Regions from separate parts of the Homo sapiens genome. Here region 1 is linked to region 2. The links come from fine-mapping of genetic effects on gene expression. A gene starts in region 2. The other region holds a variant in brackets. All regions are shown on one strand. Distances are between the middles of the regions. Region 1 overlaps DNAH10 (dynein axonemal heavy chain 10). Region 2 holds the start of DNAH10OS (dynein axonemal heavy chain 10 opposite strand).

Region 1 (8,000 bases), 88 kb after region 2:
AAACGGGGGCAGGTGTTCCAGTGCAGCTGCTCTACAAATAAGCAAATTCCATCTCTAACTTCCAGAAATACCAGGGTGGGTCCTTCATTTTTAAATATGGCAAATTGGGAACTAATTTGAAGAAACATCTGTGTTACCAAAATCTTCACTATCTTAATTTAAAGAACAGAACCATCTGTAGGAATCACACTCCAGAAATACATTGCTTCTTTATTTTGACCTAAACCTATTATTAAGGCTGTAACTGGGCCAAGCATAGTTGTTCATGCCTGTAATCCCAGCACTTTGGGACGCCAAGGTGGGTGGATCACCTGAGGTCAAGAGTTCAAGACCAGCCTAGCCAACATGGTGAAACCCTGTCTCTACTAAAAATATAAAAATTAGCCAGGCGTGGTGGCGCATGCCTATAATCCCAGCTACTTGGGAGGCTGAGGCAGGAGAATCCGCTTGAACCTGGGAGACAGAGGTTGCAGTGAGCTGAGATCACACCACTGCACTCCAACCTGGGTGACAGAGCAAGATTCCATCTCAAAAAAAAAAAAAAGGCTGTAAATGTCTTTGAGGACAAGTCAGCCACCTCATCTATGGCAAGGGTTCAAAACCCACAGGTCTCTAAGGCAAGTGTGGCAATTTTAGTCGTGAAAACTAGGAACAAGAGATCTCATCGTGCCAACTCAAAATCCTGACACGGTAATAGGCACCAAGAGCTTTCAATAAAAGACATATTGCAGAAACGCAATGTGACAACCCTCTATGTTAAAAGTATTCTCTATTTTGTAACTTTTCCAGAGCTTCTGGAAAGATCTTACGTATGTACATTTTATAGATAGCTTAAAAGAGGATAAAAGTTATCCATAAAGTTGTTTTTGAATCTACATATTCTCAAAGGCATTGTGCTGAGTGAAAGAAGCCCGTCTCAAAGGGTTCCATACTACATGTCTCCAGGTAGAGAACATTCTCAAAGTGACAAAATTACACTGACTGAAGAATAGATCAGGGGTTGCAGGAGTTAGGGTTGAGGGGAGAATGTGTCTAGTAAGCAGTAACATGAGGCTGGGTGCAGTGGCACAACCTGTAGTCCCAGCTACTCGGGAGGCTGAGGTGGGAGGATTACTGGAGCCCAGAAGTTCGAGACCAGCCTGGGCTGTAGAGACCCTGTCTCTACAAAAAATAAGCAAGATTAGCCAGGTGTGATGGCATCTGCCTGTGGTCCCAAATACTCAGGAGGCTGAGGCAGGAAGATCACTTGAGCCCAGGAGTTTGAGGCTGCAGTGAGCTGTGATCCCACCACTGCACTCCAGCCTGGGTGACAGAGTAAGACCCTGTCTCTCTTCTTTGTGGTCGTGGTGATGGAATAGTTCTGTATCCTGATGTGGTGACGGCCACTCCCATCCACATGTGATAAAACGTCATAGAACTAACTACACGCACACGCCATAGAGAGAATGTGAAACCTGGTGAAATCCACACAACGTCTACACCTGAGTTAATGGCACTTGTGCCAACACCAACTCCCTGGTTTGGGCAATGGACTGTGGCTATGTGAGATGTTCTCATGGGGAAGGGGCACCTGGAAAGTCCGTGCTACTATTGTTGCAACCTCTTGTGCATCTTACATTATTCCAAAATTAAAAGTTATAATTTAAAAAGAGGTGGGGGAGGAAGAAGAGAGACACAGCAGAAAAAAAAAACAAAAATCAAAGAGCCACACGGAGCTGACACATCCTAGGTCCCCAGTCTGGAAGAGCCACATGGAGCTGACACATCCTAGGTCCCCAGTCTGGAAGAGCCACATGGAGCTAACACATCCTAGGTCCCCAGTCTGGAAGACCCACATGGAACTAACACATCCTAGGTCCCGTCTGGAAGAGCCACACGGAGCTAACACATCCTAGGTCCCATCTGGAAGAGCCACATGGAGCTGACACATCCTAGGTCCCGTCTGGAAGAGCCACACGGAGCTAACGCGTCCTAGGTCCCCAGTCTGGAAGCAGACCCGGGTGAAGTCTGCACTGCACGACCTGGCGCTGCCAAGGCCCCCCACCTTGGCCTCCAGGAAGCCCTCAGAGAAGAGCATGATCTCACAGATCTGCTGCAGGTCGGGCACGATCACGACCACAGGCCTGAACAGCGCCTTCACCGACTCGGGCAGCTCCGTGCGGCCTGCGTAGCCGGGGTTCATGGTGATGAAGATGCCCATGCGGGAGTCCAGGGAAATCTCCTGCCCTTCAAACTGGAGGGCAAGAAGGAAGAAAGAAAGAAGCAGTTAGGTGGCCCGGCCGGCCAGCCCCTTGGAAAGGGGGCCTGCGGCGAGCTGCGTGGCGATTCATTTTCATGGTATGAGGCTGACAACACCACTTGTCTCTTTTTCCCTCCCCGGTGTTCAATGCAGGGCCCCCCTCGCTGAAGGCCTTGGGGAGGGCAGGTCTCAGTGGAACCCCAAACTCAGACCTGAACCCAGGGCACTACCTTGGAGAAGGGGCCCAGGTTGGCGAAGCACAGAGTCTGGGGCTGATACAAGAAGCTGTGTGACCCTCAGCAGGTCACTTAACCTCTCTGAGTCTCAGTTTATTTTTCTGCACAACAGAAATGCAACCCACCTCGTGGCACGGCTGTGGCGATGAAAGGAGACAGCCCAGGTTGGGAGCGCCCAGCCCACCACCTCACACAGCGCCGGCTTCCATTCCTCTCACCTGGCTTTGCACCTTCTGCGGGTGCCTGGACTTCATGCAGTCACTCCTGCCTAAAGAATCCCACCTCAAACCCCTCAAGAAACCAGTCTTCATTCCTCTGGTTGCCCCAGGTACCAACAAACCACGGAAATCCCTATATTCTTAGCCTTTTTAGCTGAAGGTTGAGTCCGGTCGTCTCTCGGTGAAGTTTTCTATTTTATTTTTTTTGATTGTCCACCAGCCAGGCAGAGGACAGAAAATTTTTGTTGTTAGGAGGCACAGTCTGCATCACCAACGAGAGGGCAGCCCGGAAGACAGCCAGCCTCCCCCAAAACAAGGCCACTGCCTTGACTCATAGGTCGGCCCTGAGACCATCCCTAGCCTCAGTATCCCACAAGAGGCCCAGATGGCCCAGATGGCCCAGGGGGAAGAGCAGATAGCTGCTGCCTCCTGGCTCTGAGAAACACAGCTTCTGGAAATCTATATACATTGCAGGTTAATTCCCTCTCTCGGGAGCAGTCAGCTCAGCCCCAAAAATCCCTCAAAAGAACTCATCAAAGGGAAATCTATCCAGACCCTTTACTGGAATCCTGAAAATATTGAACAGTCTCCAGCTGACACAATCTCTTAACAGTGAGCCCTGCCAAGATCTGAGGAGGACGCATGTGAGATGACAGGGCCACCAGCTCAAGCTGAATTTTCATCCTGGAATGGGGCTCTAAAGGATGTATAGGAGTTTTCCAGTGAAGGGAAGAAGGGACAATTCCACTCAGATGGGGACACATGTGGTGTCACAAGGCATGGTATGACTGTGGAGCAAGTGGCTTAGTGACAAGTGTGCAGGGCATGGAGGGGGGAGGACAGAGGCAGAAGGACAGCAAGGGACCCAGAAGACCCCGGTGTAGGGAAATGGCCCACCCACGCTGGTCCTGTGTTTTCAGAGAATCCCCTTCTGGGCCACCTAGATTACATAATAAGATCATGTTTCTCCAAATTTGGATCCAGCTTAATCTGGTGTAATTTAATGCAGACTTCTCAAACTCAAGTCTGCAAACATATTCTTTGGCAGAGAGAAATTGGTGAATTCTCAACAATTGTTTTAAAATTCTGCCTTCTCACTTTGATAACCTTGCAAATCCTGCTTGTTATGATGCCGTAACTTCACAAGGTATGAAGGCAAAATTTCTTGTTCACTGTGATAATGATTGCAAGGAACATTCGCTTTCTAAGTCAGGTTTTCTCAAACTTGGGAAGTCGCCAAGAATATTGTTTCCTTTCTAGGGGACCCTGCACATCACTTATTTGAGAACTCTGCCCCACGCCCATTCATAACTATTGGTTCTGTGTCTGGAGTCAGTGTGAAGTCCTTGGACTATTACAAACCTTATCATCAATGATGATAATTTTGGAAACCCAATCATCTCAATTGGAAAAACCAACAGATCTTCTACAGGAAGCCTGGTCTGGAGTGTCAAC[G/A]GCCCAGAAACTGACGCTACAGAGGAAGCTTACCATACTTGGCAAACTTCCATCCTAGGGACATGGTCCCGGGGGCTTCATGTGTCTCACCTGGAACGTGGTTAACTGATGGATCAGAGCATTTCGGATCGTCTGGATCTGGGAGGAGATCACGGAGAGCACAGAAGCATCGATTCGATTAAACTCATCAAAGCAGCCCCAAGCCCCGCACTGTGCCAGGCCAGAGAAAATCTTCCCCACGGCCTAGGAAGAAAGACATGTCAGGACAAGGGCAATTTTCATCTTTAAAACTGCAAGCAACACATTTATGGATATATTTTCTAAATTAAAGCAAACAATGAGATCACTGATTGGCAGAGAAGCAGGTGACCAGCCACTTGACTAGTGGATTTTTCTGGCAGGACTTCCAAGGCCCCTCATGGGCTGGCTCCTACTTGGGATTTTACAAATCCAGATTTTTGTGTAAAACTCCATTTCTCTTCTCTTCTCTTGAAATGTGGGAAAATCTAGCAATGCTGGGTCCACTTTCCCAAATGGTGATTATGAACCAAAGCTGGACGGGCACCCTCTTTAGATGGACTTTTGCTCTCCAGTTAGCCACAGATCCCACCACTCTCTTGTCTGCTGGCCGCTTTACTCACGTACATTATCAACCTGACCCTACTAGGGTAGTGAATCCGGGACTCTTGCTCTACATCCTGCTAACAAAGCAGGGTCTTTAAGCAGACACACTTAGGTTCTGGGGCTGTGGTGGTGGAAGGTTTTCTACTAGCTTCTTCCACTGTCGCCATGTCAAAGACTAGGAGGTGAAATGCCATGTCCTGCTTTAAGCTCTCTGCCTAATGAGCCAGTACCAAAGGTGACAGCCAGGCCTTACCCTGTAATCCATGCCTTCGCCACAGTTGGTGACAACACAGAGCAAGCCCAAGGCTTTCGCCAGGTCCTTGGTGGTCTCGGTTTTGCCGGTTCCTGCTGGGCCGGCGGGGGCCCCACCTAGATACATGGACAGCGCCTGTTATAAGCCAAATGCAAAACATATGTTTTCTGGTGCACAGAAGGAAGTGGGTGTCATTTCCAAATTCATCACTGTGACTATAGGTGCAGAATAGAGAAAGAATGTGGTGTTTGCTTTCATGTGTCAACTTGACTGGGCCACAGGATGCCCAGGTAGCTGGCTAAACATTATTTCTGGGAGTGTCCATGAGTGTGTTTCAGGAAGAGATTAGCATTTGAGAAAAGCAGATGACCCTCCCCAAAGTGGGTGGGCCTCATCTAATCCATTAAAGACTGAACAGAACAGAAGGATGGAGGGAGGTTACATTGGTGCTGCCTGATCATCTAATCCATTGAAGACTGAACAGAACAGAAGGATGGAGGGAGGTTACACTGGTGCTGCCTGACTGACTGAGCCAGGGCACTGGGCTTCTACCCTTGGCACTTCGGGTTCTCAGGCCCTCAGACCCAGACACGAGTCTACACTATTGGCTCTCTCACTGTCAGAACTTCAAATGCTACTGGCCTTCCTGGTCCTCCAGCTTGCAGATGGCAGATTGTGAGAGTAATCAGACCCTATCATCACATGAGTCAATACCTCATAATAAATCTCCTCCTAAATATCCAGATAGATAGATAGATAGATAGATAGATAGATAGATAGATAGATAAAATAGATGATCGAGATGATAAATAGACAGGATGGATGGATGGATAGATAGATAGATAGATAGATAGATAGATAGATAGATAGATAGATAATAGGATGGATGGATGGATAGATACATGGATGGATGGATGGATGGATGGATGGATGGATGGATGGATGGATGGATATGTAGATGGATGGATGCACGGATGGATGGATAAGATAGATAGATTAGATAGATAGATAGATACACAGACAGACAGACAGCCATCCAGCTAGCTAGCTATGTCCTATTGGTTCTATTTCTCTGTGGAACCCTAACCAATACAGATAAGATGACACTCTTTTTCTCAAAAACAAAGGACTTTATCACTCACAGCACAGGAGGCAGCAGGGGCTTCCTGTTCTCACTCATTCCCTTTATCCTTGTCCCCCCAAATCCCATGGTGTGATGTGGAGACGGGCCCAGGTGCATGCCACATCCACAGTGGGTATGAGTCACAGCTGAGAAACTGTGAGCCTAAGAGACCACCAATGTAGCCAGGTGCAGCAGTGAATGCTATAGTCCTAGCTACTCAGGAGGCCAAGGTGGGAGGATCACTTGAGGCCAGGAGTTCAAGGCAAGCCTGGGCAACATATCAAGACCTCATCTCTAATTTAAAAAAAGAAAACTAGCAAGCATCTGACAAACAGTCTTGGGGGTTGCTTGCAAACCTTCCCAAGCTCTGCCTGGATGGAAGTGTTATCTTCATTTCCTGTACAACAAACAAGTTTACCCTCTGTCCTGGAGGGAGACACTATCTCTATCATCCAAGGCCGTTCACTTGAACGGATATATTCTGGAATAAAAGCTGTCACAAGACGTGCAAAACCACATCACACTTGCCCTAACAGTCACCACCTTTGACATTCCTGCATTTTCGCATTGGCCTCTACCAATACCCCTGACACACCATTACCTAGGGACCAGTGTACCAGTGGCTAAGCACGGCCACACTTACATGCCAATCCCAAATGGTGACAATCTGGTCACATCCCAAATGGAAAAGCTTTTCGAGATTTCAAAGCAATGATCTCCCCTGCTATTTCAATCACTGCAGTCATCACACCTCAAGCTTAGAGAAAATGCCCCGCCCCAAGGTAAGTGGTAACCACAAGTGCCAGGCTGGCAGTCACCTGGGTGAGCGTCAGGTAAATCCGATCGGTGAGGGGCGTGATGACCAGCCTGCCGTTCAGGCCCATGTACTCGTAGCCGTAGCCAAAGGTTCCCGTGCACTGGCGGATGTTCAGCTCATCCGGCTCCCGGTCCCAATAAAACCGCAACTGACTTTCCCAGTCAAACTCTCGGGCCTCCAGGATACTGGACGGCAAGAAAGGTGGAGGAAGTGGAAACCGTTGAGACAGATCAGCGGACCACAAAGGGTCCCTTTTGAAATGCCAGTGACCCCGGAAAATGCTCACCTGCCTCTTATGAAAGAATCAACTATGTCTCTGGCATGCACATCAATGATGAGAACAGTGTTGTATTTTTTCCTGTCGTTTTTGCTTAGCGGCATGGTGATGCGCGTTACCAACTCATCGATCTGCCGGTGCATTTTCCTGCCATAGTTCTTCATGGCCTGCTTCTCCCCTTTTTGCGCTTTGTGGAAGACGTCTTCCACCTCCCAGGTCCACCACACCTGGCTAGCGGCCAGCACCACCATGCCCTGGTACAGGAGCATCCAGTCGACTCTGCAGAAAACGCACACCTGTAAGAGGCTCTGATCAATCCGGGGACTGGTACCCAAAACAGTCCCTTCAGGAATTTATTTCTTTGATCTGGAATAGGGAGGGCAAAGTAAAGGTTTTAGGTAAGCAAGTGCCTGTATTTGTTTACCTAAGTAAGTCAGAGGAGTAAGACTTAGGTGAGAGTAAGATGTTACCTATCTCCGACTAGGTAGTAAAATTCCAGGCCGAGGGTGCCTCTCTCCACAAAAAATGTTGCAGGTACCTGACTGCACAGAAAGATGCCAGATCACTTTTTAAATGTTTGGGGCCAGTCGTGGTAGCTCACGCCTGTAAACCCAACACTTTGGGAGGCCAAGGAAGAGGATCACTTGAAGCCAGGAGTTCAAGACTAGCCTGGGCAACATAGCAAAACCCTATCTCTACAAAAAATAAATTAAAAACTAGCCAGGCATAATGACGCATGCCTGTAGTCCCAGCTACTC
Region 2 (11,495 bases):
CGTTTTCACTAGTCACACACTTAGGAGAAAATGCTCTTGCTGGGAAGAGTTATGCGTGTGGCCTGAGCTCTCTAAGAGAAGATGAGAAGGATGTTTGGATCCCTCCGTGTTGCAAGTGGTTATTAGTGGGCAGGGGGATGAGTGATTTTGTTTTCTTTTGAATGACACATATATTTGGAATGCCTATTATATGTTTTTCTGATTTTCCTACAATGAACATGTGTTCCTTGTGTAATCAGGACATAAAAATAGACGTGAGTTAAACCCAAAAGGAGGAGTAACAGCAGCAGCAGCATTGGGCAGAACCGCCCCCGCTCCTCCGTGTCGCTGCCGCCTAGCATGGGCCTGGCACAGAGCAGCAGCTTGCTAAATGCTGGCGGGCGAGTGGTCACATTACTAGACAGCTCCCTGAGGATCTGGGGCTTTCTCTGGACTACAGCCCCAGAACCCTCCCCAAACCAGAATCCTCCAGGACCTCAGGAAACCCCAAAGGGCAGCTGCCTGCTGGCCGCCAGAGAAGAGACAGAAACCCAGGCCTTCCCAGGGCCCTCTGTGCCTGCTGCAAAGAGCCTGCTCCCTAAAACAGGGTGGGTGTTTGGAAAGTGCTGAATCCATGTTTGTGCAGAGACACCTGTTGGAAACGGGTTTATCACGTCGGGAAGGCAATGGATGGCTCAGCAAGGCTAGTTTACTTTCTGCAGAAAGGGTGCAACTCGCCAGCAGTCTTACCACGAGAGCACACTCAAACAAAGGAGACGAGGACATTTATAATCTTCATAACCTGATGCAATTGCCCTATGACTGTGTCCAGTTTCCATTGACTGGAATGGGACCTCACATTCTAAGCTTGACCCGATTGGCTAACAGCTTGAAACTTTCCTAAATAGGCAAAAGGGAAAGAGGACAAAGAAAAGAGGAAGCTAGTCATGAGAGGGTCAGGAGAGTTTCCAAATAAGGAAGAGCATGCACTATGGTCCAGGGCTCGCTCAGCCCTGCGCAGGCGTGCCGGGGCAAGGCGGAGCAGCTACACTGGAACATATATAGAGATATACATAGAGCAAGGAAATGACAAGCTCTTTATGGTTTCAAGAAACTTTGAAGAACTTCTCCATTCCCCACAATGCCTTTTTCTAAACAGGCCTCACAATGGCAGTTACTATTCATGAGAGTGTCCAGTTCCTTGTAAAAGACACAGACCATTTCCACCAAGCCTTAGTGGATTACCGAGCACTGATTTTTTTCCATTTGCATTGCTCATATTACAGCCTCCTGAGTGCGCCACCCAGGAGCCCAGACATCTTTTTGTCTGCGTGTGGTAGGGAAGGCGCCGTGGGCTTCTTGGGGTGGTGGAATGGGAGCCTGTCCTCAGAAGTCTCCCTGTGGAGGGATACCAGGGACCTCCCCCGAAGCCCTGGGACTGGGAGCTGGGCCTGTGGGAATGCAGAGGAACAGGATTTCAGCCTGACACTAGGGACCTCCAGCGTCCACACCTGCCAGCACTGAAGCCTTGGGAAAGGAGCTACCCGTGTCATGGAAGCCAGGGCGTCCTCGCTCCCTGTCCTCTCCTGGCCCAGGCTAATCTGAAGCAGCATAGTTTTGCCCTGTGGCCTCTCCAGTCACGGTTCTCAACCTGAGGTCCCAAGGCCACCTGCCCACCCACCCACCCACCTGATGTAGTACTCCCAGCAGCAGCAGGGTCTCACAGCAAGGGCTGTGTCTTAGGGGAGGCAGTTTCAAAAGCCTCTCAGGTGGTTCCAGTCGGGGCGTCTCCCCTCCCAGTGGTGAAAATCATTGTTTTACATTAGTGCACCCAAAACTGCCCAATTCCAAGCAGTTTCGGGACCCAGGGTACAGCATAGACTCTTGGCTTCCCTCCCCTGGGGGCTGTGACCCCAGAAGTCTGGGCGGGCCCAGGGAGTGCGCAGGTTTAGAAGCGTTGCAGTGCCCTGACGCTCGGGCAGGCTCAGCAGTGCAGCGTTTGGAGACCAGCAGCAGTTGGCTGCTGTCAGCTCAGTGTGCACCAAGCTTTCATGGGAAGACTGAAATTTCCAGAAAGGGGGTACGTACAGAGGAGGAGGTGGAGTGGAGCTTTCTATAAAGAGCAAGAAATTGGCAAAACAGGAGGTGCTGATTCCTGGGAAGGACAGTCACTGAAGCAGCTCTCCAGAGCTGGGGATGGAGGAGCAGTCGTACCAGCTCCTTCCCACAGGACGGCCCACTCAAGTCGGGGCCGGTAAACATCAGCCCGGAGCCAAGGCTGCACCCTGGAGGAGGAGGCAGCACAGCTAGATGACTCTCAAGGAAGGATGATGAGGAGGATGTCTATCCAGGAGGAGCTTCTCTCAGGATGCTGTGGCGAAAAGAACCAGAGTGATGCTTAATGAGCCCCAGATTTGGGCCTCTGCTCTGACTCGGAGGGGCTGTGTGGCCTTGGGCAGGTTCTTTGACATCTCTGAACCTGCATCTTCATCTGACAGGTGCCCCACAAATCCAAGTCCCCAGTCCGACCACCAGGGCCCTCTGCCTTTGTGGGCTGCCCCTCACAGGACATGAGCAAAGCCCAGGGACAGCCTTGTTCCTGAATGTTCCAAACGTCCATCAGCCTTTTGCAGCACTGCCTGGGGGAAGAAAAATCCCAGGATGCTCACAGCAGGCCAGGGATGTGGTTGAAGGTCTGAGGTTGCAGCCCTTCCTCGGAAGGAGCCCAAGGCCCACTGTCCACCCGAGTGTGGGCTGAAAGCAAAGGCCCTGCGACAGGCATGGGTTGTTGTCCCACAGGCCCTGGGGGAAGGACAGCGGGTACCAGGCCCAATGCCGTGCCCAGGTCAGCATTTCAGGTTGCAGGGGTTCAGCCCAGGTGGCTGGGCTCCTGGGTCTTACAGTGTCTACAGAGTCGTGTGTGTGTCTCTGTCCCTCTCTCTACCTCTGAAACTGTGTTTTAGGATCTATTTTCCTTTTGGCAAAAGAAGAAACCTCATGAAAGGTAGTACTGCATGCATCCTTTTTAGGGAGGTCATTTGCTGACATTATACCTGCACATACACACACAGACACATGGTTTTTAAAACTAGAAACTTGCAATGGTTCAACTTAAAATTTTTCAACTGCATGGGGCAATACCCATTCAGTACACTCCTCGACTTACCATGGATATGTCCAGATAAACCCATGGTAAGCTGAAAATATCGAAAACACACTTTTGACTTACGGTATTTTCAACTTACATTGGATTTTTCGGGACATGACCCCATGCTAAGTCGAGGAGCGCCCATCACCTGCAGCGAGCTTGTAACATGCAAGTGTCCTGCACAAGACCAGTCCAGTCAGCTGTGGGCCCTCAAAAGCTCAGAGTCTGGCGGCGGGACATGCTGCAGAGCTGCTGCTAGCTCAGGCAGGTGGGAAAATTCAAAGCAAGACAGACAGAAGCCCGGGAAAGACGTCCAGTGGCGTCCAGTGCCTAGGCAGGCCCTGGGTGGTGGAGTTGGTACAGGGAAACTGGGCGTGCAGGTCTGGAGTTAGGGCAAGGACAGAGGGTACAATAGAGACAGAACAAGAGGTGGTGGCTTGGGGAGAGTGATGGAAGCTTTGATTTATGTGGGAGCAGATAACATTCAGGACAGATTGAGGAACTGGAAGGCATCTGGCAGTTTGGGTTTTATTAGGCAGTGAGGAACCATTTTGAACAGAGGACAAGAATATTTAGGGGGTGACCAAGCTTCCTAAATACAGGATGGGCTGAAACGAAGACCAGAGAGGAGGTGGGACCAAGGCCGGCTGGAGGAGCAGGGAGGGGGCAGCACTGAGCAGCCAGCAGAAAGGCACAGTCAGGGAGGGGAGGCCAGGGATGGCGACTGCATCCAGTTTCCCTGGGAGAGTCAAGATGTGGGAAGCAGAGCAGCTATCTGGACTTGAGGGTGTGTCTGACGGACACTCACTTGGAGAAGTGGTGCTCAGGAGACACTGAATCGGGAGCTGATGCTCAAGTTGAATTCCAGACCAGCAAGGAAGAGTCTAGAAAGAACTTCCCAGGGGCCAGGCAAGGAGGATGGCCAGCCAGCCAGCGTTAGGAGGAGTAGGATGGTGACCCAGGGTTTAGAGCCAAGGGTGCTATGTGAGGTGACCAGGGACTGCAGGTCACCAGAAGAGCAGGAGAAGGAGGTGGCTGGTGTTTGCTGAAGGACTGGGTGAGGGCAGGCACCCAGGGACAGCAAAAGGAGGCAGAGGCCCGAAGTGTTAGGGCAGGGGCAGGGAGGGACCAAGGGTAAGAGCCACAGAGGCGAGACAGCTCACTCTCTGAGCAGGAAGTGGGAAAGAGTCTGTGTGTGTGTGTGTGTGAGAGAGACGGGGGTAGGGGGGTGAGAGAGGCGGCCAGCGGCAGAGCAAAGGTGACAGCCCCACACCTCTTCTCCTCTAAACATCAGAATTTTAATTCAATAGACATGGATAATTCTTTTTACATTTGAGTTTCAAAACAGTACTTTGAATGTAGCAGGCATTCCATAAATGCCATCTGAGCAGACAGAGGGATTTGCGGCCAGTTGAATCCTAAGTGTTTGCTGAGGTCTGATACTCTGCAATTGCCTGTTTTAAGTTCAGCATCTTTAAGGTTCAGAGACATTCTTTTATGCAGTAGGCCAGAGAACTAAGAGCCGGAAAGGGCCTCTGAGATGCCCCGATCTCCCCACCTCGGGGAGGGGAGGGGTCTTTCCAGAGCCCCCACAGCCCTGCCTTCTGCATGGCCCCCACAGCCTAGACAGGGCCCCCACCAGACAGGTCCGCCTGCCCCATAGGCCTCACCACTCGGCCTCAGTCTAATGAGTTCTTCACCTGCTTCCTCGGCTTATTCTTGTAGGAGACGGGACTTCTAAAAGCAGTGAATTAAAGAAAAGATGTGAAGAGCTGGAAGCCCAACTGAAAGTGAAAGAGAACGAAAATGCTGAGTTGTTGAAAGAACTGGAGCAGAAAAACGCGATGATCACAGTGCTGGAGAACACCATCAAGGAGCGAGAGAAGAAGTACCTGGAGGAGCTGAAGGCCAAGAGTCACAAGCTGACCCTGCTGTCTAGCGAGCTGGAGCAGCGGGCCAGCACCATCGCCTACCTGACCTCCCAGCTGCACGCCGCCAAGAAGAAGCTCATGAGCTCCAGCGGGACCTCAGATGCCAGCCCGTCAGGGAGCCCCGTGCTGGCCAGCTACAAGCCAGCGCCCCCCAAAGACAAGCTACCCGAAACGCCTCGCCGCCGCATGAAAAAGAGCCTCTCAGCCCCCTTGCACCCGGAATTTGAAGAGGTCTACAGATTCGGGGCAGAGAGCAGGAAACTCCTTTTGCGGGAACCAGTGGATGCTATGCCCGACCCCACCCCATTTCTGCTGGCTAGGGAGTCCGCCGAGGTCCACCTCATCAAAGAGAGGCCCCTCGTCATCCCCCCCATCGCCTCCGACCGAAGCGGCGAGCAGCACAGCCCGGCCCGCGAAAAGCCGCACAAGGCCCACGTCGGGGTGGCACATCGGATCCACCACGCCACCCCGCCGCAGGCCCAGCCCGAGGTGAAGACCCTGGCGGTCGACCAGGTGAACGGAGGCAAGGTGGTGAGGAAGCACTCAGGGACGGACAGAACTGTGTGAAGCCCGCCGTGCCCCACCCCGCGCTGTCCATGCACTGTGAGCACCACTGGGAAATCTCAGCCACACCTTTTCTGTTTAATCCCATGCATGCCAAACACTTTTCACACCTACCGACCCATTCTCCTTCTGCTTCTCTTGCCCTCTTCTTCACACCAAAATATGATCGTGTCCCTGCCGCAGAATATGTATTTCCTAATTGCTGTGGCCAAACGCCTGTGTGCCGAATCGCTTGCTTCTGATCCCGCTCCGTGTAACCTAAGTGCGCTGCAGGCAAAGCCCAGGCCACGGCTGCGTCACTACTGATGTTCACGATGCCACACAGTCACACACCTAATTCATTCTCAAGTCGGAGCAACACATACCAACCTTGACCTTATCCTCAAGCTCCAGGGCAGCCTGGCCGAGCAGCCCCTGCTCCCTCCTGGAGACCCTTGTCACCTCCCGAGCTCCTCCTGGAGACCCCTGTCACCTCCTGACCAACCTTTCCCAGGGCGGCACCGATCACCGAGCAGCCGTGCGTGTATCTCAAGGAACTAAATAAGATGACGCTACTCCTCATAGCACCACAACCTGAATGTGTGTTCATATTTTTTTGTTAGTTTTATCCAAAATGTTTAAGATCCCAACAAACTTTATTTTCTAAACCTGCCTTCCTTCTGTTTTGTGTCTTTTATTAAACAAACACCTGAAGGAGGGCTAGGAGACTGCAGGAGGGAGAGCAATCACAGGTCCCAGAAGCGACTCCGGCCTCCTCCCGGCCCAGAGCTAGTCCTTAGAATGTGCTGCGCTCCTGAGCTTCTGTGGGAAGCTGCTTTTGCCTCTGATGGCCCCTGCCCACTGTGCTGCCCGTGCTAGCCCCTCTCCTCCCTCATGGAGTGAAGCCACCCCTCACCTCCAGGTGGCCAGCCAGGGCTCCAGGCCAGCCTCATGGTGCACAGAGGGAAGGGGTGCCCAGTGACCACTGGTCCTGGAGGTTCTGTGTCCTTACCTGACCCCACACAGACCCAGGCAGGCTGGGGGTAGAAGCTCATGCAGGAACTAAACACTAAGCTCAACAACTTCACAGTCGCCGTAGCAGGTCAGAGCCAAAGAAGCTAGGGCCAGAGAGTTCTGGAAGGGGGAGAAGTGGCTCCAGGTGACTGGTCACTTCTGCTCTGTGCCCGACATCATCAGCCCTTCTTGCCAAAAAGGAGCATCTGCTGAAACAGACCTGGATCATCGAAAACACACCTTTGGAAATTACATTAGGATTCTCACTTGTGCCAATGCTATGTATGCCAGGCACTTTTGCCTAATCAAGTGTTTTCTCTGAGAAGGAAAAGAAAACTCCACACATCTTAAAATACTCTCCAATATTTACTTTTTGATTATATAAATTCCTTTTAAAAAGTAGTATTAAAAACAAAACCATTCAGGTTAATTTGTATGGAAAGAGATTTAAGTGGCTGATTTCAAATGAAAAATCAGTGTCAGTCCCCCTCCTGCCTCTTGAGAGGCCCCAAGAAATGACAGCAGACCCGATCACTCTGACAACCCCAGGCTCCGAATTCATTAAGCAGTTTTCTTCACCCAAAGGTTAATCAGAATTCAGGGTGAGGCATACTCCTTGCAGCACCCAGTGAGAAATGTGCCTCGTGGTAAAGAGATCAGCTTCAAAAACCAAGCCGACTCCCATGGCGTTCCTTCTCATGGAGGTGGTGTAGACGGGGGTCCGGAAAGTATTCTGCAAGGGAAAGGCAGGTGAGATGCCCCCACGGAGAGAGGGTGCAGAGGGATAAAGGCAGAGGTGCAGTGTAAGTCTTGACAGGCAGGGGCCCCTGTGCAAGACTGCACCTGAGAACACGCACAAGGCTGGGGCTGCTCAGGGCCACCCTCCGCCAGCTTCACGGGGACCTGGCTTCACACTGACACCCTGGTTAAAAGTGGGTCCTGGCCCAGGCAGAGCAGAAGACATCTGCTGTCCACACCAGCGGGAACCACTTTATGACTCAGGCAATGTCTGCAGCATTTTGCAAGAAGGGAGGGAGTCTCCCCTTGGTTAGTCTAGACCACAGGATCACAGCTTGAGCCTGACACCTCTGGAAGGACCGGCATCCACACACACATACAGCCGCGCCTTTTCCAGGAAGCAGCTATCCGTAGCTTTTATCACGGCTCCAAGACTCTCCCCAGCCCATAAAGCTTAGGCACCCCTGTTTTAAAAAGTAGGACTGTTGGAAACCACCTCAGCCATAACTACAGTCAGAAGAGGAAGGGCCCTGGTGTCAGAGAGGAGGGGCTGGGACCTTCACCTGCAGCTTGAGGCGATGGGCTTCAATGGGGATGATCTTCAGGATCGGCAGGTCCACAACCAGCACCTTGGGTTTGCTCTTGATAAGACATCCTTTTTCTATATCCCAGTCAGCACCTTCCAGGTACAGTCCTGAGACAAAGCATCCTAGGGACACAAGGCAGAGACTGGATACAACTGGAGCATGCACAGCCTGCCACGGAGTGGCTCTATCAGGCGCACACACAGCGACACACAGGCCACTGGCTGGCCTCCTCCCCAGCGCATTGGGGACAGCCCAGGCCCTTCTCCAGCATTTCTGTCCTGCCCACCTTCCCTCTGTGGAGGAGCAGCCCAGACAGGAGACCCTGTGGCCCTGCCCCATGGCCCAGAGAAATGGGTGTGGGGCGGTGGCCTCTCCCCCAGGAATCCTCATTCCTGGGGCATCAAGGCCCACGGACTTAGACCACCCTGGGCCCCCAGGCTAGAAAGATGCATGGTCCCAGAGTCAGAATGGGCACCATGGCAACCCCAGCTACCCTGTGAGCCGAAGTGGCTGGGGAGCAGGAAGTCGAAGCCTCACAGAGAAAGTGGTCTCCGGGGAGGAGGACCCAGCAGATGTGCAAAGAGAGGAACACACTCCTGTGGCCCCAGAGAGAGTGGTGGCCCGGACACCTGCCACCTCCCCTGCCACTGAGACCTGGAGAGTCCCTGCATCTTTACCGTAAGTCCCCAGTCCTTAAGCCATCTCAAAAGAGCTTTTGTTCCTTGCAGTTAAAAGAACTCTAAGACAACATGGACCCGGGGAAACAGCAGTTTCCAGCTCTCATTTGCACAGTCAGTAACCAATGTCTAAGGGACCTGAAGTTCTGGCATAATCAAAGAGTTCCAACCAAGTTAGTCCATGCTGCTCTGTGGCTCCCATGCCCCTGGCCCCGTCAGGGGTTACAAGAAAGCCACCTGATGGTTTTTGCAAGAGCTAATTCTGACCTAGGAGCCCACTTGCCATGAGCTAGCAGAGTGAACATGGTTCAGGTCTCCCCTGCCATAGACCCCAGGTCTCAACGGAGAAAGTGGAAGAGAAACTTCCGTATCCACCCTCAGAGGTGTTAAGACATGGGCAGTGCAGAGACACAGGAAATATTTGCAGCAGGCTGGCTTTCAAACATGGCCTGGCCCATTTAGGCCCACGCTATGCCTGTCCCTTTGAGTTGGAGGTGGTTCAGGGAGAGAAATCCTAAGTGAGAGGCTGTGGATCCCTAACGAGCTGACGGTACCTTGTCCCGCCCGCTCATTCACTTCATCTGCATCCTGGAACTTGGTCACTTGTGTGAACAAGGTGGAGCGGTCCAGTGGCCAGCCGTTCTTCCGGCAGGTGGCCTGCACCAGCGCCGTGAGGTAGGACTCAGGGATGTGCAGCCCCGAGAGCCACATCACGCTGGGCTCGCTCTCGGTCACCTGGAGAGAAGAGAGGACAAGTGCTGGGAGCCTGGGGCTGCCATCCAATGCCAGGTCAAAGCTGGCCTGGAAGTTTAGTTTATGATAAAAGACATATTTCACCTAAGTGGCAAAAGATGGCGTTGGCACAACTGGCCGCCTGTCTGAGAAAAACAATCTGGACTGCCACATTCCAGGTAGATCAAAGATTTAGATATAAAAATAAATAAAACCACAAAAGTACTGGGCCACATCTCCAATGAATGCTTTCATATCGTGGAGTAGGAAATACAAAGCCCAGGATAAAAAAGAAAAGCCTTGTAGGTTTGACTACGGAAAAATGTAAAGCTTTTCTGTGGAAAAAATACCGTAAGCAAAGTCAAGACTTATGACAAGCTTGGAGAAATACCTGCAACACTGGCAGACCAAGGGCTAATTTCTTTGATTTGCAAAGAGCTCTTAAACATCAATGAGAAAGATGGAGACCTCACTAAAAATGAAATCCAGATACAAAAGGACAATTCACAGAAAAACAAACACAAAATGTCTGTAAAGCATGCAAAATACGCTCAGACTCACCATAATTAAAGACATGCAAAACAATGAGATATTATTTTCACCTATCAGGGAGACAGTGATCCAAAATGTTAAGAACGCAGCATTGCAGCGGAGTGAGGAAAGAAGCACTCTCATAGACTGTGGTTTCAGCCTTTCTAAGAACCATCCAACAAGAGCTATCAAAATTTAAAATGCACAAGCTCTTTGATCCAACTCTTCCACTGTCAGAATTTACCCATGGAATATACCCCTATGCATATTCATATACATGTGCACCAGAATGTTATTTGTATTAGCAAAAAAAAAAAAAAAATGGTAACCACCGAAATGTAGGCAGTTACCATATTTTTAGGATACAGAAGGAGGAGAAAGGATATGAAACATTTGTACAATGGCATACTCTAAAAAAGAACGAGCTAGCTGTGTACTAATATGGAACAAGTGCCAAGATATACACTTAGATAAAATAATCGGGTATGTAAGAGTATGCTTCAAAGTCTTCAAAAGAAAAGGAAAAACAAAAGATACAGATAGGCTTGTAAGAATCTCAGACCATTTCCAGAGCACCCAATAAACTTTAACAGAGGTTACTGCTGGGCAATGGAAAGAGGGGATTGGGAGGTGGTTTGAGGAGTCTAGGCTGACACCTGAATCGGCAGAGAGGAGGCGGTGACGTGCCACTTACCCACAACATGTACTGGCTGAACCGCCGCAGGAAGTAGACCATCCAGTTTCCAAGGGACTTTAAGGTGTCAGGAGCAAGCCTTCTCCAGATATTAGGGATATGCCCGATAAAAAGAGACCTGGCCACATCATCTAACTCATTGCTCATTCCAACTTCTCCAGCCAAGGCCTATTTAGAATCAAGAGCAATCGGGCAGGACTCTATCAGAACCCCAGGTGCCACGTATCTAGGCAGTAATCTGCACATGAGAGACAGGCTCACCCTTTGAAGTTCAGCCAGAGACTTCGTCATCCGGACCACAAGCTTGTTGAAGCGTTCCAGTTCCTGCAGGAGCACCACCGAAGTGGGGGAGAGTCCTGTTCCGAGGCGCTTCCTCACCTGGTCCAAGTCAAAGACTTTGGGCATCTTGTTTTCTATTTCTTTGGCCACTTGGCCAATATAATCATCGCGGCTGATACCACTGCTGGATTCCCCTAAAACCAGGACACTTTTCAGAGAAAGCAAGGCATCCACGTGCAGAACCGGAGCCTCCTGAGCCTTCCAGTTCTGGGAAAGGCATCAGCAACGTGGGAGGGCTACAAGAAGCAATCGTAAAACCCCAATCAAACTAATGAAGTCCTCCTGAGTAGAGTTTACCTGTCTGAGGCTGCAGCTCCAGCAGGTGAGCCCACATGTCTCGAGCCGCCTGCGTGTAATAGCCAATCTCAGCGTTGGGGTGGAGACCAAACACTTCTGGCGTGTTGGCAAGCGGGAGGGCCTCGATGGCTTCTGCAATCACAGAGAACAACGGAGGTGGCACTGTCCAGCCACCTGTGCTTTCTCAGGGCCCACAGCCTCAAAGTCTCCAAGACATGCAAGACTAATTTCCACTGTTTAGAGGGTGACTTTTTTTTTTTTTGAGACAGGGTCTTAGTCACCCAG

Evidence for each region. PIP is the estimated chance that this variant, and not a neighbour inherited with it, causes the effect. A credible set is the group of variants that fine-mapping cannot tell apart.
Region 1: its variant is the best candidate, but not a certain one, in a credible set for the expression of DNAH10OS in whole blood (TOPMed, PIP 0.62).

Annotation. Positions count from the first base shown.
Region 1 is chr12:123,845,121-123,853,120 of GRCh38, reverse strand. DNAH10 (dynein axonemal heavy chain 10) reads right to left here. Exons shown (of 79, transcript NM_001372106.1): 31 at 7,252-7,521; 32 at 6,967-7,150; 33 at 5,026-5,160; 34 at 4,239-4,391; 35 at 2,045-2,233. Among named protein-coding and RNA genes, the nearest start is that of DNAH10OS, 86 kb to the left of the region's middle. The variant G/A (reference allele first, on the strand shown) is at 4,149.
Region 2 is chr12:123,931,188-123,942,682 of GRCh38, reverse strand. DNAH10OS (dynein axonemal heavy chain 10 opposite strand) reads left to right here and starts at 7,699. Exons shown (of 2, transcript NR_187476.1): 1 at 7,699-8,618. DNAH10 (dynein axonemal heavy chain 10) reads right to left here. Exons shown (of 79, transcript NM_001372106.1): 74 at 11,211-11,342; 75 at 10,836-11,047; 76 at 10,575-10,742; 77 at 9,172-9,352; 78 at 7,917-8,062; 79 at 6,969-7,348. The coding sequence ends at 7,202. CCDC92 (coiled-coil domain containing 92) reads left to right here. Exons shown (of 5, transcript NM_025140.3): 5 at 4,853-7,057. The coding sequence ends at 5,625. RefSeq lists enhancers at 3,633-4,133, 4,134-4,634.